Linked DNA regions of Homo sapiens. The protein of the gene in region 1 purifies or fractionates together with the protein of each later gene. This does not show direct contact. Each region holds a gene or a part of one and is shown on either strand. Other genes may lie near its edges. The genes, in order: LIG3, APTX, RSAD1 and PREPL.

What was found.
Region 2: the proteins of LIG3 (region 1) and APTX purify together in Homo sapiens (affinity purification with mass spectrometry; 3 studies listed by BioGRID and IntAct, with this or other methods). This does not show direct contact.
Region 3: the proteins of LIG3 (region 1) and RSAD1 purify together in Homo sapiens (affinity purification with mass spectrometry; 2 studies listed by BioGRID and IntAct, with this or other methods). This does not show direct contact.
Region 4: the proteins of LIG3 (region 1) and PREPL purify together in Homo sapiens (affinity purification with mass spectrometry; 2 studies listed by BioGRID and IntAct, with this or other methods). This does not show direct contact.

Annotation. Positions count from the first base shown.
Region 1 is NC_000017.11:34,983,503-34,990,535, reverse strand, and holds part of LIG3 (DNA ligase 3 isoform alpha precursor), read right to left. Parts: coding exon 6,984-7,033; intron 4,549-6,983; coding exon 4,405-4,548; intron 1,071-4,404; coding exon 873-1,070; intron 1-872. UniProt on the Homo sapiens protein: Isoform 3 functions as a heterodimer with DNA-repair protein XRCC1 in the nucleus and can correct defective DNA strand-break repair and sister chromatid exchange following treatment with ionizing radiation and alkylating agents.
Region 2 is NC_000009.12:32,984,604-32,991,636, forward strand, and holds part of APTX (aprataxin), read right to left. Parts: intron 5,317-7,033; exon of another isoform or gene 5,293-5,316; 5' UTR 5,289-5,292; coding exon 5,156-5,288; intron 3,527-5,155; coding exon 3,480-3,526; intron 3,244-3,479; coding exon 2,941-3,243; intron 1,428-2,940; coding exon 1,368-1,427; intron 255-1,367; coding exon 28-254; intron 1-27. UniProt on the Homo sapiens protein: DNA-binding protein involved in single-strand DNA break repair, double-strand DNA break repair and base excision repair.
Region 3 is NC_000017.11:50,481,842-50,486,489, reverse strand, and holds the end of RSAD1 (radical S-adenosyl methionine domain-containing protein 1, mitochondrial precursor), read right to left. Parts: intron 4,400-4,648; coding exon 4,034-4,399; intron 3,848-4,033; coding exon 3,784-3,847; intron 3,151-3,783; coding exon 3,003-3,150; intron 2,785-3,002; coding exon 2,730-2,784; intron 2,049-2,729; coding exon 1,945-2,048; exon of another isoform or gene 1,848-1,944; intron 1,747-1,847; coding exon 1,629-1,746; 3' UTR 516-1,628; downstream 1-515.
Region 4 is NC_000002.12:44,323,487-44,330,519, reverse strand, and holds part of PREPL (prolyl endopeptidase-like), read left to right. Parts: intron 1-1,407; coding exon 1,408-1,583; intron 1,584-3,591; coding exon 3,592-3,808; intron 3,809-7,033. UniProt on the Homo sapiens protein: Serine peptidase whose precise substrate specificity remains unclear. Does not cleave peptides after a arginine or lysine residue. Regulates trans-Golgi network morphology and sorting by regulating the membrane binding of the AP-1 complex.

The DNA.
Region 1 (7,033 bases):
GGTTGAGGTAGGCAGATTAATTGAATCCAGGAGTTTGAGACCAACCTGGGCAAAACAGCAAAACCCCGTCTCTACAAAAAATACAAAAATTAGCCAGGCATAGCGGCACATGCCTATAGTCCCAGCTACTTGGGAGGCTGAGGCAGAAGGACTGCTTGAGCCCAGGAGGCGGAGGTTGCAGTGAGCTGAGATTGCACCCATGCGCTCCAGCCTGGGCAACACAGCCACATTTTTTGTCTCAATAAATAAACAAACAAACAAACTCAAAGAAGCAGAGACCAAAAGATATCTATATATCGCTGCCCATGCTCCTATAGTACCCTGTGCATATCGCTATAGTAGGAGACAGCATGGAGTTCAGAGGCTGGTGGATTGTGTCTGCCTCACCTTTAGCCTACAGATGAACTCTTGTTGGACAGAGTGGTTAGTTTCACTTCACGTGCCCAGTGACAAGGACATCAGAGATGCTCATCGACAATTTGTTAGATAAATGAAAGAAACAGAGTTGGAAGATTCTATTCCAAACTGTGTATATGGTTCACAAAAACCTAATTAAATATGTAGGACAGTAAATTTTCTAACTAGTCAAATAGGATGGGTTCTTCTGGCCTCCTAGGAGCAGAATAAGGGGAGAGGAAGACAGATGCCAAAGTGCTCTGAGAAAAACTGGCTACATAATTTGTGGAGTACAGTGCAAAATGCAAATGCGAGGCCCCTTGTTCAAAATTATTAAGAATTTCCAGATAGCACTACAGTACAGCATTAAACCAAGCATGGGATCCCGGGCAACTATACAGCTCACATGCCCAGGAAGGCAGCCATGGCCTTGAGCTCTCCGGAGGAAAGGCCTATTCAGGATGCTCATGCCACACCTCCTGCTGAGCCTTTCCGAAGGAAGTCCTGGATGATCTGGGTCTTCGTGTTGTAGCTAGGATTATCGGCCACCATGGCGCATAACTTTCGAAACTCCCGTAGCAGACAGTCCTTATGCCTGGGGTCACATTTGCTTGAAGACAGACTTCTCTTAGGGGTGGGGCTCGAGGGGGCTTCCCCAGAGTTGTTGGGCTTGGCTGTTGGAGAAACAACAGAGATGAATTCATTCTGCCTTTCTGAGAAGAAAGAAAGGGAAGGAAGGAAACTAACAGATATTCTGCTGGTATTTAGCTTTATTTAATCTCCCCGAATAGACTTTTGGGGTAGATGTCATTATATCCATCTTACAGATAAAGAAATGGAGGCCAAGTAATTTTCCCAAATCTTACAGCTAATAAATAATGTTAAAGGAACAATGGCCTCCTTAGACCCAAGCAAAAGACCAGACTGATGTGCATCTCTTTATGTGAGCACTTTACTGAAGAATAAAGACCAAAGTCATGCCAAGAATGATCAGGACTGGCTGGGCACAGTGGCTCACGCCTGTAACCCTAACACTATGCGAGGCCAACGCGGGAGGACTGCTTGAGCCCAGGAGTTCGAGACCAGCCTGGGCAACATAGTAAGATCCTGCCTCAAAAAAAAAAAGTGGTCAGAAGGATCTCAGAGCAATTGTAAAGCTGATCCCAGAAAAGCTGGCATGAGAAAGGGGTAAGAAATCAAGTACGTGTTAGACAATGTGAAATTACTGCTATCACAGGTTGTCAGAGCTGGAAGAAGCCTTAAAGATTATCTAGTTCAATGTTCTCTTACTGATAAGGGGACTGAGGTCTGAGAAGAGCAAATGACTTCCTGGCCCACTTCCTTGTTGAAAGAGCCAGGACAAAGACACTACTAAGAAAGTCAGATTCCATTAGTACACTCAACATCCCTACCCCTCGCTGCTTCAACTTTTCTTTTCTTATTGTCAAAATAAAACCCTGCTCCCCAAGGAGCAGTTATAAAAAAAAAATAATACATTTTTACAAAAGGTGGTCAAGGGGCAGGGATTTCCTCCAGACACTTAAAAATAATTATGTGCAACTCATCGGTGATTCCCTTTCACCTCCTTGTGACCATTTAAAAAGCAAATTTTATTCGGCAAACTTGTGGCAGAGCCATTACTAAGCTAACTGCTGTTGTACACTGTTTCTTGTCTGGGCTTTGTAAATTATAAATCCATCCTCATCTCTGATCCGGAATCTAAATATGATTTTAGGGGACAAAATCTCCAAAGTGTCAATGTTCAACCAGGTTGCAAGAACTAAAACACTCTCTTTCTCTCAACTCCTCCCAAATTCCATCCCCAACACCGGAGCCCTTCCAGAAACATGCTGTCCTTATCATCACCTGGACTCTTCTCTATCTTTGGCCTACCAGCAAACAACAAACCAACCAACCTCAGAATTTTTTTTTTTTTTTTTTTTTTTTTTGAGACAGAGTCTCGCTGTCGCCCAGGCTGGAGTGCAGTGGCGCGATCTTGGCTCACTGCAGGCTCTGCCCCCAGGGTTCATGCCATTCTCCTGCCTCAGCCTCCTGAGTAGCTGGGACTACAGGTGCCTGCCACCACGCCCGGCTAATTTTTTTATTTTTAGTAGAGACAGGGTTTCACTGTGTTAGCCAGGATGGTCTCGATCTCCTGACCTCGTGATCCGCCCGCCTCGGCCTCCCAAAGTGCTGGGATTACAAGTGTGAGCCACCGCGCCCGGCCCAGAATTTTTAAATAATAAAAATCCTATAGAGCCAGGCACCGTTTTTGCAATGTTATCTCTTACAGTCCTCATGAGAACACTATGGGGTAGATGAGGCATGGAGATATGATGAAGCTTAAACAAATAAATACACAAACTCACTGAAGCAGAGGGGAAAGTAATCTATATATTGCTGCCTGTGCTCCTATAGCACCCTGTGCATAGCACTATGGTAGGAGAGGCCACTGCTGCTTCATAGACAGAGGCTAAAGAGAGGTAAGGACGTGCTCAGGGATCTGAGCTGTCAAGGACCAGAACCCAAGTCTTCTGACCTCAGGTCTAGGCTTCTTTCAATCACATAAAATGTCTTTCAATCTCCAAATGACTTCTAAAATAAGGCCAAGTGGTTTGGCTTTATTTATTTTCTTCAGCTGAGTCAATCACAAGAATGTCTCCAAACAATAAAAGCAGCAACACAGTGTAGTATAAAAGAGCACAAGTACTGAAGTCAGACTTCAGTACAAATACTAACTCCATGATAACCCTGAACGTCAACTTTCTCAGTCATAAAAAGGGCCTAATAAAAAGTACTTCCTAAATAAAAGTACTGTCTAGGGTTAACTGAAGAAGAAATGAAACTACATATATAAAAGCCCCTAGTCCAATGCTGTCTGTTTACGTAAGGCCAATAAATGATCCTGATCTTCTCAACTCCTATCTATACCACATGCCCCAGCAAAGTCTTCCTGAATCCCTGTCTATGAAATAGTAATTCTATATTTTATATAAAAGAAACTATATATGTGTGTATACACGTGTGTGCATGTGTGTATTTTAGTGAAGAGAACAGGAAACTTAACACTTTATTGTTCATCTGTCCTACAAATAATAGCCACAGTCCTCCCCTTTAGGAGATGGGATTTGAACCCAGAGCTCACTGATTCCAAAGTCTGCAAGCTTCATCCCTAGGCTGTACTGCCTCCCAACAAATAGCAATATCCTTCAGATCTTTTTTTCCTTCCTTTGTGTTCCATGAAGTTCCAGTGTTTTGAATAAACAGTTTTAAGAATCAAGAAGGGAGATCCATGCATGACATCTCCCTTCTTTCATACTTTCATTTCTAGGCATATTCAGGGAAACAATTTCTCAAAATTCTTTCATTATCAAAACACAAGGAAGTAAAAGACAGGTTCTAATAATCTCTGTCTGGCCCAGGTAACTATTTCAAGGGGAAAAAGTCTTGACAAAACAAATCTTTCCGCTGCGATAGAGGTTAAAGTATACAAAGAAATGCTATACAAGTGGAATGCTGGCCGAGCGCAGTGGCTCACGCCTGCAATCCCAGCACTTTGGGAAGCTGGGGCAGGTGGATCACCTGAGGTCAGGAGTTTGAGACCAGCCTGGCCAACGTGGCGAAACCCCATCTCTACTAAAAATACAAAAATTAGTCAGGCATGGTGGCAGGTGCCTGTAATCCCAGCTACTTGGGAGGCTGAGGTGGGAGAATCGCTTGAACCCAGGAGGCGGAGGTTGCAGTGAGCTGAGAATGCACCACTGCACTCCAGCTTGGATGACAGAGCAAGATTTCATCTCAAAAAAACCCCCAAAACCAAAAAACAAACAAACAAACAAAAACCAAGCGGAAGGCTTAGAATTAGCCATTACCAGTCTCTGCTCAGACAGAAGCAAATTATTAATGAGATGAGATAGCACAGAATTTTCACTCTTTAGCCAGAATCCTAGGTAGAATACAAAATAAAAGCAGCACTATAACAGCTAAAGTAGCCCTAACCTATCTTACCTGAAAAGCCAGAAAATTTCCGGGGATTGGTACTGGTGACAAATGAGGCGCCTTTCACTGGAGAAGTCACCTGGCCAGTGGTTGTCAACTTAGCCTGGACAACAGCTTTCTTCTTTGGTGTACCTGCTGCCTTAGAAGACAGATCTGTAGGATCCCAAAAGAGTATAAAATATCCTTCAGTGAACGATCTCTGAAAAAAACATCCAAAGAATCTATCAACTGCTCCTAGGGCCTTGCTTGTTAAGTCACTACCCTAGCACTAGCCCAAGGCTGGCTGGTGGCTGGTATTTTTTGAGTGGGGGTAGTAGGTAATAGGGTATTGTGGGGACAGAAGGGAAGGATATGCTGGAGACAAAAGATCCAGTTACCATTTATCTCTATTAGTACCTTAAATTTTCATCAACATTCTCCACTTCTTATCCCATATGTAAGTCTCCAGAAATAACAATTTGGGGGAAATCAGAAATCATAGTTTGATGGATAAAACTTAGGGAACCCCCAACCCCACAGAATTAGCTTCAATTTAGAGATGAACAAAAAGTAAATGAGGATCACAGAGCATGTCAACCTAGCATAGGAAGGAAAATTTCCAGATGCTTAGTTATCTGAGTCATGAACTCTACCTGTATTTCTCTTCCTCCAAATGAGAGATGGGTCAAGAAGTAACAAAGGCCGAGGCCAATAGCTAAGGCAGTGCAAGGTGGGATGGGGAGCCTGAGAATAAAGTATATGGGAAGCACAGTTTTCTTTCCCGGAAGTCTTTTTTCCTTTCAAAGAACAAGGACAGATACCCATTTTTAGAGCCATTGTTAACTGTCTTCCTATGGTGACCAGAACTAAGTTGAAGATATGAACATTATTTTACAGACACTGAAGGTCAAAGAGGACTAACTGGATTTGGGGGTATTGGCATAAAATTTCTAAAATATGCATATGTAAATATGCATGTACATGCAAACATGTTATATATAGCCATATATAGGTATGAATTTTACATGCATATACACGCACATATTTTCTAGCTCTGTCTGCTGAAAGGGCTTAGAAACAGACATGCCATGGCTGGGCGCTCAGGCCTGTAATCCCAGCACTTTGGGAGGCCAAGGTGGGTGGATCACTTGAAGTCAGGGGTTCAACACCAGCTGGACCAACATGGTGAAACCCTGTCTCTACTAAAAACACAAAAATTAGCTGGGTGTGGTGTCAAGTGCCTGTAGTCCCAGCTACTTGGGAGGCTGAGACAGGACAATTGCTTGAACCTGGAAGGCAGAGGTTGCAGTGAGCTAAGACAGTGCCACTGCACTCCAGCCTGGGTCACAGAGTGAGACTCTGTCTCAAAAAAAAAAAAAAGAAGAAACAGATACCCCATGACAATGTGTTCACATAGTATCCGGGTTTTACTCTTTAATACCATTTCCCACTAACAGGATAGTGCCACTACACTCCAGCCTGGGTCAGAGTGAGACTCTCAAAAAAAAAAAAAAGAAGAAACAGATACCCCATGACAATGTGGACACATAGTATCCAGGTTTTACTCTTTAACAGGGGCATTTCCCACTAACAGGAATCCCCAGAGAAATTACCAATTTCAGGGCTGGGGAAGGATACATACGGGATAAGACTAAAAGCATCTTGCTATGCTCAAGAGTAAAGAAGTACATTAAAAAAAGTTAATGAAGGTATACAGGACACAGAGGACAGTGTAAAGGGGTTCCTAATTGGCCAAATATGGGACAATTAAGTATCAAATTAGTTAAGTACAGTAATGAATTATATGCTACAAGAAAAAAAGTAAAAGAGGATAGTAATCAGTACTCTATTCTTCCAAAATATCAATGTCATAAAAGAGAGACTATGGAAATATTTCAGATTAAAGGAGGCCAAAGAAACATGACAACTAAATGCAACACCTGATATGATCCTAGACTGGGATCCTATACTGCAGGAAAAGGCTACTGAAGGTATGACTCAATCCATTGACAAAATAGTATACAGATGGTAGATTTAAGTATTACATCAAGGACAAATTTTCTGAAGATGATAGCTATATTATAGTCGCATAAGGGTCATATATCCTATTCTTAAGGTATATACACTGAAGAATTTTAAAGGGCCATGATGTATGCAACTTATTCTCAAATGGTTTAAAGTGAGTGCACGCACACGTGTGTATGTATGTAGAGAGAGACAGCACATGAACAAATATGATAAAGCAAATAGAGTAAAATGTTAATAGGTAAATATGGGTAAAAGGAATATGAATGTTCTTTGTACTATTTTTAATCTTCCAACACTTCAGTGAGTTTAAAATTATTTCCAAATAAAACGTTAAAGGCTGGGCATGGTGGCATGCGCCTGTAATCCCAACTACTTGGGAGGCTGAGTCAGGATGACCTGAGTCCAGCAGTGCAAAGCTGCAGTGAGCTACGAATGCAACATTAAACACTGGCCTAGGCAACAGAGTGAGACCCCATCTCTAAAAGAGCAAAGTTAAAAAAAAGAGAAAGAAAGCAGTTGAACTCCTTATCCCTTTTTCTCTCAGCACCAGTAAGATGAGAAAGCAGTGTTCTCTACCTTACCTGCAATGTGCTGGGTTATCTGTTCCTTCTCATTATCTTCCAGCTCTTCC
Region 2 (7,033 bases), on another chromosome or scaffold:
GCCAGCAGCACTACCCACCTGGCTTACCTCATACTCGGAATGGCGTGGTAGCCCAATCGGAAGCGGAGTTTGCTGGACCCAGCAAAATCTACAATCACCTTTTCCCCCACAGTGTGCATATGCTTAAGGAGTTCAAGGTGTTCCCTGGCCACAGCCTTCAGACTGGAAATGGAGGTCCACGGTAAGACCAGCCAATGGTAACGGGCCTTTGGGTATTTATCCTTTATCACCACCACCTGCTCATCTTTGTAAACCTAGCAGAGGGATACAAGAGAAGGAAACAGACATCTACTAAGAATCTTCTGTGTGCCTGGTTGTTATATTCACTAAGTCACTTAATTCCCACAGTCTTGTGCAAATGGTTTTAATAGCCCAGTTTTGAGAGAGGAGAGCACTGAAATTCAGACAGGTTGAGTGTCTTGCACAAGTCATAGTTCCTAAGAGGGAAATCTAGGATTCCAACTCAGATGTGGTTGACTCCAGAGTCTGTTTTCAACCACCACACTACACAGAATACACAGAAGATGCACAGTACAAAATAGTTCCCAAGAATGTGATGTAAAATCTCTGTAGACATAAATTCAAAAGCATCCTTCTCCACTCCAACATGGCAGACTGTGTGACACGTACACGTGGGTTCCAGTGAGCCCTATTAGACCTGCCCCTTGTCAACAAGGAATATAATTGAAGTGGGACTCAAAGGCTCCTCAAGGATGATGCCTGTTTTTTTTTTTTTTTTTTTTTTTTTGAGATGGAGTTTCGCTCTTGTTGCCCAGGCTGGAGTACAATGGTGCAATCTCAGCTCACCGCAACCTCCACCTCCCGGATTCAAGTGATTCTCCTGCCTCAGCCTCTCGAGTAGCTGAGATTACAGGCATGCACCACCATGCCCAGCTAATTTTTTGTATTTTTAGTAGAGACAGGGTTTCTCCATGTTGGTCAGGCTGATCTCGAACTCCTGACCTCAGGTGATCCTCCCGTCTCGGCCTCCCAAAGTGCTGGGATTACAGGGATGTCTGACTGTTAATGCCAGGGCAGCACAGTACTACTGTCACAGTGTATTATCTCTGATGCTCCCCTGAAAGGAACCATACTAAGGTTAATGCAACTTCCCTTAAAGTACCCAGAAGTTTAAAAGGCACAAGGCAGAGGGGATATTCATTTGAAGAACTCAGCTTTCTCTCCAAACAATGACAGCTGCTACTTTATTGCCAATGTGAAAAGCCTCTTGTTCTCACAGAACAGCCCAATAAAATGAATCTCATTCAGAAAGACTGATATCCTTTGATTTCATTTGTAATTAAGACCTCTGTGGAGTGGTCATTTACAACATGAAATGTACTGAAATTCCAAAATTGTATTCTGACCTGCATTTTGGGGTCCTGCATAGAAATCTTCAAGCCTTGACTCCAGTGGCCCAGGGATTCCTAAAAAAAAAACAAAAAAAAAAACAAAAAAAAAAAAAAACAAGCAATGTAAATTACAAATGCCAATAATTAAATTTGGCAACAGTTAATACTGTGTGATAGCACAACTAAACTTGGAAATAAGCTTAGTTTTTGAGAATTAAACAAGATTCACTTGACTCTGCTTCACTCCATTGCCTTCCTATATTCTCTTTTTTTTTGAGACAAAGTCTCACTCTGTCTCACCCAAGCTGGAGTGCAGCGGCGTGATCACTGCAACCTCCGAAGTGATTCTCCTGCCTCAGCCTCCCAAGTAGCTGGGATTACAGGTGCCCACCACCACGCCCAGCTAACTTTTGTATTTTTTAGTAGAGACGGAGTTTCACCAGGTTGGCCATGCTGGTCTTGAACTCCTCACCTCAGGTGATCCACTGGCCTCCACCTCCCCAAGTGCTGGGATTACAGGCGTGAGCCACCACACCCGACCCTATATTCTTTCTTTTTTTTTTTGAGATGGGGTTTCGCTCTTGTTGCCCAGGCTGGAGTACAATGGCGTGATCTCGGCTCACTGCAACCTCTGCCTCCCGGGTTCAAGCGATGCTCCTGCCCAGCCTCTGGAGTTGCTGGGATTATAGGCATGCACCACCACGCCCAGCTAATTTTGTATTTTTAGTAGAGATTAGGTTTTGCCATGTTGGTCAGGCTGGTCTCGAACTCCTGACCTCAGGTGATCTGCCCATCTCGGCCTCCCAAAGTGCTGGGATTACAGGCGTGAGCCAGCACACCCAGCTGTTTTTTATTATTGTTGTTGTTTTTTGAGATGGAGTCTCGCTCTGTCGCCCAGGCTGGAGTGCAGTGGTGCAATCTCAGCTCACTGCAACCTCCGCCTTCCAGGTTCAAGCAATCCTCCCGCCTCAGCCTCCCGAGTAGCTGGGATTACAAGCATGTGTGTACCACCAGGCCCAGCTAATTTTTGTATTTTTAGTAGACATGGAGTTTCACAATGTTTGCCAGGCAGGTCTCAAACTCCTGACCCTCAAGTGATCTGCCCACCTCGGCCTCCCAAAGCGCTGAGATTACAGGCGTGAACCACTGCACCCAGCCAGCCTTCCTATATTCACAGCTGGCTGTTCTAAATGAAGGCGAGAAATGCCAGAGTATGAGTCATACCTTCTTTGCCCTCTCTCACTGCAGCTACAGCCTGACCAATTCTCCACTTTGACATCAGCATATGAATTACATGATCTATGAAAACCTTCTATAGATGCATAAACAACTGATCCACTTTAGTTGTTCAATGTTAAGTACACACTGCCATTATTGTTGTACCTTCAGGTGGCTTACCTCAGGAATTTAAGAAAAAAGCACATAAAGGAACATTCATCCAAATGATTTTCACGCCACAAACAAGTGACTCTTTCATCATGGTTAATAACCCCTCACGCATTTCTGAACTTTAAAGTGTACAAAACAATTAAGCAGTCATTATATTTCATTTCTTCTCCACATCATCTACCAATCACACTACCCTCACCTTTTTGATAGGTGCATCTTTTCCCTTCTTTAGGGGCACAGAGCATTGGCCAGAGTTGCTCCCAGGTTCCAGCCCTGTCCCAGCCTCAGCTTCCTGAGCAGCATCCCTTTCTATAGAATCACTGTTGCCTGATCTCTTTCTCTTCCTGTGTGTTTCCAGGCCAGGGTTCTTTGCCTCTTCCTCAAACTCTACAATATATGGATAAAGTTCATTCACCATGTGGAGAACCTGGCCAGGCTGCAGCTTCACCTCTTGGTCCTTCCCAATTACGACTGAGTCAATGCTGGTGGGATTGACTCCTACCTATGGAATAAACAATCAGAAAATAATTATAATAATAGCAACAGCACCTACAGTAAGATAGCCACTGCTATGTTAACCACTTACTATATGCCAAGCACCTTGCCTTATGTTCACCTATATTACTCCATCACTTCCATACATGACAGAGAAGCCTTCACTGGCTGGCACAGACACTCTAAAGTCAACAGCATAAGAAAATCATCGAGTATAAAATTCCAAGTTATAAATACACCTACCTGCTTTACCTTGACATATCCCTTGTTACACTCTGCTTTCAACTGTACTGAAAGAGATTGGAAAAAGTTAAACACAAATGCAACAAAGAACCAGGCACTTGCTCCTATCTTCCCTAAAGAAAACAAGCTTCACTACAGGCGGCAGCTGAACAGGTGGTGTTTCCTTAAAGGCCTATTAGCAATCACCTGTTATTGCAGGTGGCTGGAGCTCCAAATCCTACCAATTTCTAAAGGTTTAAATCCTTCCATAAAATGTCCAACAGCGTACATACTCCCTTAGCTATTGCCAAGATCCCTATGAGGCAGCTTCAATTAATCCCCACAAGTTTCCCTATTCCAGAACCCCTGGCCTGCTCATGATCACAGACTCTGCCGCCAGAAAAGAAGACCTGTTTCTCCCAGCCTGGGCAGCATGGCAATACCCCGTCTCTACAAAAAAATACAAAAATTAGCCAGGTGTGGTGGCACATGCCTGTAGTCCCAGCTACTTGGGAGACTGAGGTGGGAGAATCACTTGAGCCCCAGGAGGTGGAGGTTGCAGTGAGTCAAGATCGCACCACTACACTCCAGCCTGGGCAACAGAGTGAGACCCTATCTCAGGAGGAAAAAAAAAAAAAAAAAAAAAAAAAAAGATCCATTTCTCACACGAACTCTTGACCAAGGATTAAATCAGGCTTCCACTATTATTTTGGAAAAACAACAACTATTAGATGCTTTAAAAGATAAAACAGTAAAAGACACATTCCTGGAAAACAGAAACTCAGGTGGCTTTGGGTAGAAGGAGTGGAAAGAATGTTCTAGAAAGATGATTGCAGAGACAGAACAATCTGAGCATGTGTGAGAAGTGGTAACATTAAGCATTCCTGTTCTGATAAATGAACAAGGTATCTGGAGTTGAGACAGGGAGGAAAGAAGAACCACCATAGCTGCTCCCCAGAGAGGACAGGGTGCCACATACATGCCCCTTCAGTTGCTGTTGTGAGGAAGGGAACAGAGAGAGAAGCAGCCACTGCTTCTGCATCTTGGGCCTACTCAGCTCAAGCATGGCTTTGTATCCCTCCACTTAGATTAACTCATATAGGAAAGATCATAATCAGTGCTGCAGATGCCAACTCTCTAAGTTCAGAACCCTTGGGAAACCTTGCTGTGGGGGGGTCACACTCCAGCCAGCAGTGTGCATGTTTACAGGAAAAAACAAGGTACATGGTAAGGATTTTTTTCTGAGGGCAAGGACTTTCATGTTATTAAACCCTAAGACAAGTGCTAGATGCCACTGTCTCATAATACTTTGCGTGAAGCAATATGTAAAGGACGGCACTACCCCATTACTTCTCAGAAAGACATGGTTTCACCTGTAGACTCCAGAGTTTACATCTTGCTGCCCATTGAGCAATGTCCCTGGGGAAAGGAGGGCAGGACTCAATTCCACCATCCCATGGTAACAGTATGAACTTGACTGCTCCCAACCTTCACCCACCCTGCCTTGAACATTATCACATTGGGAGGGCAGAATCAGGAATAAATAGGGCCCTGGTGTTGGCTAAAAGAGCTCAGTTCCTGAGCTGTATTTTTGGCAGACAATAGATTTTCCATCAAGATCACCCAGAAAATATGCATCTTTGGTTATCACTATCCCACATAACCATAGTAATCTCCACATTTCTATGACCAGTTACCTTGCTGTCGAGAACATTTCTTATCAGTGATCTTGGTCTCTGGGCCACGCCCAATCACAACTGCTTCCAAATGTGGAAGTCTGATTCGCTGGTGCCGGCTGTCCTGTCTCACCAACCAGCACACCCGCATCATCACTCTAAGGGACAAAACAAAAGAATCACTAGAAAAACAGATCCACTAGCACGAGTCCTCCAGGGCCACACCCGGTGCCACCACGCATGTGATCTACCAGCTGTTCATCTTGAGGCAAGTGACTTCACCACCCTAGTCTCAATTTCCTCACCTATAAACCATGATAATGATGGGACTCAGGAGGCTGTTGTGAAAATTAAATGAGATAATGTGAGTAAGTATTTACCTCCCTGCCTGAATCATGCTAGGCAATCAAATATTTATTACACATTTATTTATTTATTTATTTTATTTATTTTGAGACAGAGTCTCGCTGTGTCCCCCAGGCTGGCACGCAGTGGCACAATCTCGGCTCACGGCAACCTCCACCTTCCGGGTTCAAGCAATTCTCCTGCCTTAGCCTCCTGAGTAGCTGGGATTACAGGCACCCGCCACCACACCTGGCTAATTTTTGTATTTTTAGTGGAGACAGGGTTTCACCATGTTGGCCAGGCTGGTCTCAAACTTCTGACCTCAGGTGATCCACCCGCCTCTGCCTCCCAAAGTGCTGGGATTACAAGCATAAGCCATCACACCTGGCCTGTTACACATGTATTGATATGTGCTGGACATTAGGCTACATATTGAAAGTCAAAGGATGAATAAAACAGGGACATTGTCCCTGTCCTTGAGGAGCCTGGAGTGCAGTAGGACAGACAGAATCATATACCAATATATACAATATAATGTGATAAACACTACAAGAAGAGAGTAACCAAATATGGCATTAGCCCAGTAAAAGGACTGACTGACTCTTGTGGAGAATATTTTAAAAGGCTTCACGAGGAAGGGATATTAATGTGCGGTTTTAAAGGATGAGAAGGAGTTTGCCTGCCAGAGAACTAAGGACATAAAAAAGATGTTCTCTAGTGCTTAGGTGTCTTTATGTGTCATAGGTTTTCCTTCCCTGTCATGACATACTGATGTTAGAACAATATATTTCACTCCCATCTGCCAGGAGACAGTCATAATAAATATGCAAATCTACAATTTCTTTACTTTTTTTTTTTTCTGAGACGGAGCTTCACTCTTGTTGCCCAGGCTGGAGTGCAATGGCACAATCTTGGCTCACTGCAACCTCTGCCTCCTGGGTTCAAGCGATTCTCCTGCCTCAGCCTCCCGAGTAGCTGGGATTATGGGCATGTGTCACCACAGTCAGCTAATTTTATATTTTTAGTAGAGACTAGGTTTCTCCATGTTGGTCAGTCTGGTCTCGACCTCCTGGCCTCAGGTGATCCGCCTGCCTCGGCCTCCCAAAGTGCTGGGATTACAGGCATGAGCCACCGTGCCCGGCCGCAAACCTACAATTTCTAAAGTGTGAATGTGACAATTTTGTGCAATACGCAACGCGCAAAACAATGGAAGTGCTGATATTCTTTTGAAAAACAACCCTTATGGCCATGTGGACTATCAGTAAAAGAGAAAGAGACAAGAAATTCAGAAGAGAGATGAGACCTCAACAATGGCCGAAGCAAAGGGGATGGAGAGCAAGAAGAGCCAGGAGAAATCTGGAAGACATACTTAATTACTGATGACATTTGGGGAATGACAAAGGAATAAAAGGACACACTGGCCAGGTGCGGTGTCTCAGGCCTGTAATCCCAGCACTTTGGGAGCCCAAGGCAGGCGGATCACGAGGTCAGGAGTTTGTGACCAGCCTAGCCAACGTGGTAAAACCCTATCTCTACTAAAAATACAAAAATTAG
Region 3 (4,648 bases), about 15 Mb from region 1:
ACAACTTTTAAATTATTCAGAAAAAAAATTATACAGACATATTTATCTAAAGATGAAGTAAATGTGGCCAAAAATTAACAATTGATGAATCTATAGGGTAACCACAAAGTATGGAAACTTTTTTTTTTTTTTTTTTGGAAGCAGAGTCTTGCTATGTTGCCCAGGTTGGCCTCAAACCCTTGGGCTCAAGTGATTCTCCCGTCTTGGCCTCCCCAAGTGCTGGGATTATAGGCATGCACCACCCCATCTGGCCTATCATATTTTTCAATAGATTGAAGATGTTCTTGATGGCATTATGAATATTTGCCTATTTCCAGACTTTATAGTTACATAGTAGACAAAGGATATATGGCTTCCAATGAACTATTCTTTTATCTTTTCTGTAGGTCTGAAATCCTTCAAAATAAAATGTAGGGAGCGGGGGAAGGAATCTCAGCCCTAGGCTAAGGTTCTAGTCCCAAAATCAGGATTCCACGCTCTAGGAAGGAGCTCAAAGGAGAGGACCACAGTCAAGACAGGCTCCAGATGTGTTTATTAGGCTATTTAAATAGAACCATGTGACCATTTCTGTAGGTAAAAGGACAAAGAAGAATTACAAACACTTTGGGTCTTTCCCGAATTCTCTCCCCTTTCTCTGGTCAACTCCACCCACCTTCACTCTCAAAGGAAAGGCACAGGGGGAAGGAAGTGAGTGAGGGGGCTCAGAAGAGTCTGTGTGGCTCCTACCACCCCAAACATATTCTGGTTTCCCGAAGATAAGAGGCAAGGCTTGCTCTGATCTTTCCCAGTTCTCAGAGTCCAGCAGGCCGCTGTGCTGGACACATACATGGATCCACCAACATACATCAGTCCTTCTGTGTTCTCTCCTGCATGGTAGAGGCTGGAAGCCTAAGAGCTATATTCCTCAGAATTTCCTGCCAGCCAGGATTTGCTTTAAAGTCCACTAATGAGAGGCACTTCTAGAAACCATGATTCCTTCTCCAGCAGTGGCAGACAGTAGGCATGAGGTTTTGTAGCATCTTCTGAGCATTTTCCAGTACATCATCTGCTTTTGTGCTGCTGGAAGCTGAGACCATCAGCAGGAGTTTTCTGTGCCTCCTGCAAGTTGCTGATTTCTCACAGTTGCTACTGGCTTTCTCCAATGTTCACTTCTCTATCCCTTTCAGTGGTTTATAAATACTTCATTCCTATAGTAGATCCCTTCCTGCTTATATTAATAATACCTAGAGGGGACATGGTTTTCCTGATTCATCCAGCTATCTTAGGACCTTACTCCAAAATAAGGAAGGCTTCTCTTGGGGAGGTAATTGCCTGTAGAAAGATTTCCAAACACTGTTCATTATTTGATGCCAAAAAGGTAAACAGAAGCTGATGTGGGTGGTAGGCAATTCCCAGCCATGGAACACATGTTGGCCTGTGAGTCCTGAGATGCTGAATGGGATGCCAGTTCCCTGACCAGAAATGTCCTCCCATCTACCTCACTGCTGCCATTCCCCTGGGGATGCCAGGGCTGAGCAATAACCACAAGGAGCAGAGACGGCACCCGACAACGGAGAAGAGATGTCTGCAGTACCGACCCAGCTCTCAAAACCCACCTGGCATTACCCTGGAACACAGGAACATTTTTGTCATCCTCCTGGCACAGGGGAGGGGGTTCTCTGCTGCCAGGCTTCTTGGAGCTGAGGCAGGAGGGTCAGCAAGAGAGAGTCCAGCACAGCCAGACCCTCCCAGGAACACCGAAGACCCCTGGAAAACCAAGAGGCCTGAAGGTGACTACTTCATCTTACCAATTTCAAGCCCATCACCCAGCAGGGCCGAGCTCCCAGCACCCGCAGGTCCCGCCTTACCAGTCAGTCTTTCTCACTTCTCCTGGGTCTGTGGAGAGCTGTAGTCAGGGCTCCCTGGTATGCCTCAGCCCCCTCTGCCCGGCACCCCCCAACACACCTGTGATCCAGCTGCAGTAGGCCCCGCTCCAGCAGCTCCTGCACCTCCTTGTTCGCTCCAAACACATCCCACAGGGTCAGCTGGGGCTCAAACTGCTGCCAGTGCTGGGGAAGCCAGAGGGTCAGAGGTGGGGAGCTGGCCTGGCTACTCTGGGCCACATAGTTGGGGTATGGTGAGAGGTGGGGGAGGGTCCAGTTCAGCATGGAGATCTCAGCAGCTGACATGCATGAAAGCAGAACCAGGCCAATGGGCCAGCAGGGAGGAGGGCAGCTTCACTCCTATTCCACTGAGACTGGAACCCAGCTTCCAGCCAAGCCAGGCCTTCCTCTATGCCTCCTCTCTTCCCTCCCCTCTCAGCCAGCTCTAGCCAGGGCTTTATGGCTCTGCTTTATCCAGAGCAGCTCTGGATTTGCTTGATAATTATCTACTGTGCTTCCTATGAGAGGTTTCAGTGCTCCCTAAAAACAAGTGGAAACCCTTTATCTATCTATTGCTTCACAGAGCTCAGAAAATTGAGGTTAAGAGAGGTGAAAGGATTTGTGTCCAAGGTTGCAGTAAAATGAGGGCTGGAACTTGGGTCTCTGCAGCCCTGGTCTAGGGTTCTTAGCTATGCACCACTGCTCACTGCTTCTGCCCATCAGGCCTCAGCTGGACCTGGGCCCCACTTCTAGCTGCCAATCTCACAGAAATTGGAGGTATATGTGTGTGGGGGGGGTGGCAGGGAGGGGGCATTGATTCTGCAAGACTTTAGGAGGGAGTGGTGTGCAAGAATCCTAACTCCTTACCTGGTGAGTGATCCCCACATCGGTGCGTAGCCCCAGGGCCAAAACTTCCTCCAGCCTCAAAGAAAAATCACCAAGGAGTCTTAGAGAGGAGGCCTGTGCTCCTCCCATTCTCCAAATTCTACACTGGGATGCATTTAGAGGAGGCTAACAGGGACCATACAGTATGTGGCAAGGCAGGGGCCAGGACAAGACAGGAAATAAAAGATATACAAATAGACATGGTCTTGGGGTGTGGGGATCCTGGAGGAGAGCCCTGTGCCCTTGGATGCTCACAGCTCCAGCCTGCCCAGGGGGACACGCTTCCGGGTGCCATGGCCAAACAGCATCACCTCCTTCATCCAGTTGTCAGGCTCCAGTGTCTGGATCCGAGCCTCCCGGGTGTGGCCTCCAGCCCCCTGGGGCATAAATCGTCCATGGGCCCCTGACAACATCAACAACCATCCCCACATTAATGGCTGTTAATACTATGTGTTTACCAGATTTAAATCATGTGGTCCCTGGAGCAACTGCCTCTAACATACTGGAAATATAAATTATTTTTCTTTTCTTTTCTTTCTTTCTTTCTTTCTTTTTTTTTTTTTTTTTTTTGAGGTGGTGTCTCACTATACTGCCCAGGCTGGTCTTGGACGCCTGGGGTCAAACGATCTTTCCACCTCAGCTTCCCAAGTAGCTCAGATTAGAGGCACATGACACCAGGCCCTTTTTTCTTTTTCTTTTTTTTTTAATCATCTATCCCAAAATGCCAAGACATATAAATTCTTGGGCTCTCCTCTAGCCCTGTCCAATTGGGAATTCTGAGGGTGGGGCCCAGCAGCTTGGGTTTTAACAAGCCCTCCAGGAGATTCTCATACACACTAAAGGCTGAGAACCCTAGTGCAAGGTGCAACATTAAGCCCCTTATAATTCATGCTCAACAGTTCTATAGGGAGGTATTATTTTTTGCCACATTTTACATATGAGAAAATAGAGGCTTGGAGAGGTTAATGTGGCCCAAGTTCACACAGCCACGACATTCCTCTCCTGAGTCACCCTTTCTGTAGTTCACGGGACTCACCAGGCCCAACGCCAAGGTACTGACCACACTGCCAGTAAGTCCAATTGTGGGTACTGAGCGCCCCCTGCGGGGAGGGAGGAAATAGTGCAGAGTGAAGAGGGCAGGCCTCATTTTTAGACTCAGGTAAGGGGCCCCAGGTTAGAATGTCCCACCATCTCGGCCAGGATCCTTCTCTTCAGAAGGTCACAACGCCCTGGTCACACTGCAGTCTGCCCATCCTCCACCTCCAGCCATCAGCCCCAGAACTTACATTCCGGGCAAAGTTGGAGACCTCATACTGGTGGAAGCCAGCCTCCCGAAGGACAGCCCGGCCCCTCTGGTACATCTCAGCTGCGAGCTCCGGGTCAGGGGCTGGAAGGGCACCCCGCTGCACCTGGGCGAAGAGTGCGGTGCCCCGCTCCAGGGACAGCTGGTAGAGGGAGAGGTGGTCATCACAGTGGTGCAGCAGTTCCTGCAGCTGCCCAAGCCACGGCCCCACCTGCTGTGCCGGCAGCCCCAGCATCAAGTCTACAGACACGCGCCCGGGAAAGAGGCGCCGGGCCTCTGCCAGCGTCCGCAGAGCATCGCAGGCCGAGTGCGTCCGTCCCAACAGCCGGAGCTCAGTGTCATCTAGGGACTGGGAAAAGAGGGTGGGTGTAAGCATACCAGCAGCTCAGAGAGAGACAAGAACCCTCCTCCCCATTGTAGACACAGATACAGGGAGAACGCAGCACGTGGCAGGCAGCTGGAAGGCAGGAGGGGGAAGGTCAAGCTGGCACCAAGAGCTGCCATTCACAGAAGGGTCGCTATGTGCCAAGCACCTTTATGTAGTGTCTAATTTAATCTTTGTAACCCTCCAATATTAGTTCTATTTTACAGATGAGAA
Region 4 (7,033 bases), on another chromosome or scaffold:
TGCACCTCTTAGAAATAATCATTGTTACCCACTTAGTGTATTATCTTTTAGATAGGTTTTATTTGGTTTTACAAACATGGAATTAGACTAGTCTATCAAAATGTTGCAATTATTGGACCCGAGATGGAAAGAACAGTTAAGCACCATGTTCTTGGAGAGCCAAGAGGGGAGAAGGGAAGCAGCTGCTGAATGGAAGCGCTATACCTTTCCACAGGCATTTTAGTACTGCTGGCAAACCCAGATCCAGCCCATCACAGGAGTAGCTACTGTTTTACCTCTTCCTTTCAAAACTTTTCAACAAGCAACTTTTTCTGATTGTATAATTGAAGTTGGGGAAGAGTTGGGAAGTGAAAAGACCAAGAGTGTTTTATAGAAATTAATCTACATCAAGTTTTATAAAAGTGAATCTTACTAAAAGTGAAAGTTAACAATGTCATAACAACTTGGGTATTTTAAAGAAGAATGAGAGGAGAATTTCCTCCTTATTTGATTACATTTTGCTGTCTCCAGTTATTGCCCCAAAGTGAAGTTTTCAAAATGAGAATGAAAATATGAAGAGTGACTTGGATGTATTATTTATTTTCTTTATGTAAACGGTGCTATTTCATTAGTTTAAGCAGGGTGAAAACCAATTTCTTTATCTTTTTTGTGTGAAAGGTAGATCAGAATTAGTTCTTTTGTCTGTTCAGAGACTGCCTAGTTTCAATCAACTGGAACTGATGAGTTTGAGCTACATTGGGGGATGGTTACATAACCTACAAGTAACTTAGTAACCTTACAAATAATTTAACTTACTTTAACCCTACAAAGAATTTTACCGAAAAATTTTAAGACCACTTTAAATTTTTTTTAATAAAGTTAAATGGGCCTTTGAAGAGGATTGTGGTAGTTATCAGTAACATCAGTAAGATTTCAGGTCTTAATGGTTGAGAATTCCGACTACAGAGGATATAGAAAATTGAGCTGGTAAGACTTTAGTCAGCATATTTGTAGATACTCAAAAGTGAAAAATGCCAATATCTAGCTCTTAGGCATAGGAAGAGTGCTATACTAGGACTTCTAACCTTGGTAAGTATTTTGGTTTCATCTGAAAATTTAAAATTATAGTAGGTAGTGAAGAACTCTTTAAAATTACATTATTGTCATGAAAAGCTGCATTTAATAAAATGTTTTCAGGCCAGTCTTGCTGCTCTTTTCTGGTTAATACTGTAGGACAGCAAGGTAGCTGAAACCAAAAGCCATGATTTATTTTTAGAGACCATAATTCTTTTTCTTAAACAAATTTGTGCTCAACATCAGTAGGTAGCACACAAGTGGGGACAGTGCACCTCAATGTATTTTAAATTGGGATAAAACAGTTATTATAAAAGACTCTTCTTTACATACATAGTAATTCTTCATTTCTAGGATGGAAAATTAGTGCCAATGACTGTTTTCCACAAAACTGACTCTGAGGACTTGCAGAAGAAACCTCTCTTGGTACATGTATATGGAGCTTATGGAATGGATTTGAAAATGAATTTCAGGCCTGAGAGGCGGGTCCTGGTGGATGATGGATGGATATTAGCATACTGCCATGTTCGGTGAGTCAGTATATTTTACCTGGCATGTAAGTGCTAGACCATTGTGAGAGATGTCAAGAATAACAATATATATCAGGGAACAAAAGCTTATTTTTTTCATTCTTATTATTCAATTTTTGTATTCCTAAACCAGCACTGGTGAAACTTGATTCTTTAACAGATTAGTTGATCCAAAAAGCAAAAGGATAGGTTTTTAGGATTTTTGCATAGAGGTACCAGACTCTGTACTTATTTAGTAATATTATTATTTCCTTTCAGTTCTCCTGAATTCAGGTTTAAGTAGCCTCTGAATCTGAACTGTTTTCCATTTAACTTCCATTTTATTTCAGCTGTTTTCAAGACACAAATATTATTTTGTATTTCTGCTTAAAATTCTTCTCCACCTCCCCATCTCTAGAACACAGTCCAGATTCCCCAGTATAATACTCCTAATGGTCTGATGGATCTCTGTAGCGGCATTTAGCATCAGACCCTTTTTTTTTTTTTTTTTTTTTTTTTGTTTGAGACAGTTTTGCTTTGTCGCCCAGGCTGGAGTGCAGTGGCACAATCTCGGCTCACTGCAACCTCTGCCTCCCAGGTTCAAGTGATTCTCATGCTTCAGGCTCCTGAGTAGCTGGGACTACAGGCGCACACCACCACACTGTCTGAATTTTTTTTTTTTTTTTTTTGAGATAGAATCTTGCTCTGTCGCCCAGGCTGGAGTGTGCAGTGGCATGATCTTGGCCAGGGTTCAAGCGATTCTCCTGCCTCAGCCTCCTGAGTAGCTGGGATTACAGGTGCCTGCCATAACTCCTGACTAATTTTTGAAATTTTTGTAGCGATGGGGTTTCACCATGTTGGCCAGGCTGGTCTCGAACTCCTGACCTCAAGTGATCCGCCCGCCTCAGCCTCCCAAAGTGCTGGGATTACAGGCATGAGCCACCGTACCAGCCCGATTTTTTTGTATTTTAGTAGAGACAGGGTTTTCCAATGTTGCCCAGGCTGGTCTCGAACTCCTGAGCTCAAGCAGTCCGCCCGCCTCAGCCTTCCAAAATCATGTCCTTTTATTTTTTTTATTTTGTTTTGTATTTTTTTGAGATGGAGTCTCACTCTGTCTCCCAGGCTAGAGTGCAGTGGCGCAATCTCCGCTCACTGCAACCTCCGCCTCCCAGGTTCAAGTAATTCTCTTGCCTCAGCCTCCCGAGTAGTTGGGCTTATAGGCACGCACCACCACACCTGGCTAATTTTTTCTATTTTTAGGAGAGACGGGGGTTTCACCATGTTGGCCAGTCTGGTCTCAAACTCCTGACCTCAAGTGACCTGCTCACCTCAGCCTACCAAAATGCTGAGATGACAGGCTTGAGGCACTGTGTCCAGCCCCCAAAGTCATGTCTTTTAAATGACATGCTCTGTCACCTCCTTGCCCTTATACATGCTGTGTCGTATCTGTGTCTTAATGCCTTTTCTTTGCCCTCTGGAAACTCAAATTTTTCCTTCACAACTCAGTTTAGGCATCATCTCCTTAAAAGCATTTGTGTTCCTGACTCGTGTATATACCCCTCACCTGGCAGATGGATGTTCTTTCCTCTGCTCCTGTAATACCTTAAATACACTTGTATTGTAGCAATGACACCACATTGCTGGGTAAGTCGTTGTTTTCTTACCCCACAAAATTACTGTCTTCTCCACGGTAGGGGATTTTCGTTTGTTTCTACTTTTAAGGTCTGTACTTAATCCCTGATAAATGGGCAGGCACTCAAAATATATTCGTTGAATCAATTCTGGATTGTCTATATCAGGAGTTGGCAAACCTTTTTCTCTAAAGAGCTACATAGTCACATTTTAAGCTTTGCAGGCCGCGTACAGTTTCTGTTGCACATTCCTTGTTTTCACTCAACCTTTAAAAAGCAAAAACCAGTCTTAGCTCCAGGGCCACACAAAAAACAGGCCTCCAGGTGTAGTTCGCTGACCCCAGCCTACAGTATTAACTTTTTTTTTCCACTAAAACTTTTTTGCCCTTCAATTTCAGAGGTGGTGGTGAGTTAGGCCTCCAGTGGCACGCTGATGGCCGCCTAACTAAAAAACTCAATGGCCTTGCTGATTTAGAGGCTTGCATTAAGACGCTTCATGGCCAAGGCTTTTCTCAGCCAAGTCTAACAACCCTGACTGCTTTCAGTGCTGGAGGGGTGCTTGCAGGAGCATTGTGTAATTCTAATCCAGAGCTGGTGAGAGCGGTGACTTTGGAGGTGAGTACGCTCTGTCTCTACTGTTTATAGAATGGGGGAGGTGTGAAGCCATAGGCTACTCTAAGAAAAATGTTTTTGGGCTGGCACAGCGGCTCATGCCTGTAATCCCAGCACTTCGGGAAACTGAGGTGGGCAGATTGCTTACCAGGAGCTCGAGACCAGCCTGGGCAACATGGCGAGACCCTGTCTCTGCAAGAAATTAAAAAAAAAAAAAAACCTACCCAGGCTTGTTGGTAAGAGGATCTCTTAAGAGGTTGAGGCTGCAGTGGACCACTGTGCTCCAGCCTGGGCAACAGAGTGAGACATTGTCAAAAAAAAAAAAAAAAAAGGAAAGAAAAACATTTCTGTTACAGTTTTACCATAGCATAGGAGTATAACAAAGCTTTTAAGTTTTAAACTCAGAATTATAGCTTGAGGAGAACTTCTAAAGTTATTTTAATCCAACTATTAACCGTTATTCTTCTCTGATACAGTGTTCTTTATTATCTTTAAGGCTTTCCACTGAAAGATATTAATGGCTATTTCCATTGCTCATTTGTATTTGTAAGGACATTTAGAATTGGTGAAAAAGCACTGAAGCATATATGAGTCCCAGTTGAGAAAGCCAGGCAAAGCACGCTGTGACTCTGGAATGCACTGAGTCCTTTGGCTCCTGGTCACCTTGACAGGCTACTGCCCATCAACATTTCAGTCCTAGATTTATAGGCTCTTTATTTTTAGATAGTCCATTCTTAATGGTCGTTTGGGCATAGTTTTTCCGTATTTTAATTGAAATATCTTACCCTGTTCTGAAAATGATTATCTTTTCCCAGTGTCAGAAATTACGAAGTTACATTGTAGCAGTTGGTTTCACTGCTATCATTCTCCTACTTCTAGGTTACTCTGAAAAATAATGACTGAGATGGGAGAGAGTAAATTATTTTCAGGATTTTTTATTTTGAGGTTGGGGAGTTTATACTGTGGGCTTGTAAATAAGTGTTAAATAGTAGTCACCTGTAAGTCTATTTTTTAAAAACAGAAAAATGTGGAGAATAGCCTATGCACAAAGATAATGGCAGAATTATTTACAGTTTAAAGACAAAGCAACTAGATTTTGACTTTTAGAAATTTAAAAGGAAATGATGAGAAGGATATTTATGCTAGGTTGCTTATTATAGTGAAGACTAGGAGACAACCTTTTATACATGTATAAGTCAAATTCTTCTTATAAGCACCAAAAATCAACCCTAATTTAAGCAGAAAAGGGATTAAAGGGCATTAGGAAAATGTAGGTGTCTTCAGACCAGTGTTAGAGGCTTCAGAGCCAAAGGCATAGAATTGGCCCAATGAAACTATTACTGCCGCCACTGCCAAGCACAAATCACCTCACACTGCCAGTGCAACTTCTAGAGCTGGATATAGCTGTGGCACTTTTGCCAGAATAAATTATCTGTGATCACTGCTTCTTTGAATCACTAACTTTCCATGCAGAGTGTAAAGCACATGTGTCTGGTTGATAGACCCAAGTCACACATGGGTCACACAGCTACTCCCAAGCTGCAGGGAAAAATGGGAAAGAGAAGTCTAGCACTTAGTATCTCCACAGTGAGAGGCAGGCTCTAGCTGATAAGGTTGGAGGTTTTTCAAATGCAAAAAAGTTCATATGGTAGGCAGCCAAAAAGAATTACAGATGACTCACTATACTTGGTTAATGTTAATATGAGGGAAAGCTAAAAAGTATGTTAACAGAAGAAAATAAAGCTAAGTGAAAAATACAGCCTTCATTTTTGTTTTGTTGTTTTTGTGGGGTTTTTGTTTTTTTGTTTTGTTTTGTTTTGTTTTTTGAGTCAGAGTTTTGCTCTTTCACCCAGGCTGGAATGCAATGGCACACGAACACAGCTCACTACAGCCTCGACCTCTGGGGCTCAGGTGATCCTCCCACCTCAGCCTCCTGAGTATCTGGGACTACAGGCATGTGCCACCATGCCCTGCTAATTTTTGTGGTTTGTTGTTGTTTTGTAGAGATGTGGTTTTACCATGCTACCCAGGCTAGTTTCAAACTCCTGGGCTCAAGTGATTTGCCCACCTCAGCCTCCCAATGTGCTGGGATTACAGGCATGAGCCACCATGTGCGACCCAGCCTTCGTTTTATTAAATTTTGTAACACTAATTATAAGCCAATGGGTTGTTTTCTCTTCTTTCACCTTGGGTATTTTGCAGAGTTTCTTTACTTAGCGTTTTTTGCTTTTAATATAAAATGTCCAACTGGTCAAAAAGACTTTATTCCTTGTGTATTTTTTTCATTTAAAAATTTTTAATTATGGTAAAATACCATAAAATTTACCATCTCAACCATTTTTAAGTGAATAGTTCAGTAGTGGTAAGTGCACTCATAGGCTTATGCAGTCAATCTCCAGAACTCGTTTTTCATCTTAACAAAACTGAAACCCTGTACCGATTAAACAGCTCTCCATTTGCTTCTTCCCACAGCCTCTGTCTCTGTGAATTTGACTACTCAAACACCTCACATAGGTGGAGTCATACAAAATTTTTTGTGACTGGCTTATTTCACTTAGATTATATCCTTGAGGTTCATCCATATTGTAGCGTGGATCAGAATTTTATTCATTTTTAAGGCTGAATAATATTCCATGTAATATTGCATGTGTATACCACATTTTGCTTATTCGTTCTTTGGTTAATGGACACTTGAGTTGCTTCCACCTTTTGGCTGTTGTGAATATGCTGCTGTGAACATAGGTATGCAGATCTCTTTAAGACCCTGCTTTCAGTTTTGGGGATTATATGCCAGGAGTGGAATTGCTGGATCATATGGTAATCTTAAGCTTAACTCTTTGATGAACCACCATACTGTTTTCCAAAGCAGCTCCCCCATTTTACATTCCAACCACCAGTGTATCAGGATTCCGGTTTCTCCACATTACTGCCAATACTTGTTGTTGTTGTTGTTGTTTTAATATAATAACTAACTGTCCTAATTGGTATGAGACAGTAGCATTTATTGCTTTTATATAAGAAAAAATATAAATGAATAAAAGGTACTAAGCTAAAAATAAATATTGTGAAATTAGAAGATAAACCATTTCTTGTTATATGTCATTTAAGGAATCTGAAGACTTTAAAAGTAGGTTATAAATTACAGGCCCTGGTTAAGGACTGAGTATTCTAGCTCCTAGGAATCTACATGGCTTGAGTTATTTTCTCTCATATTAGTATGTATATTCA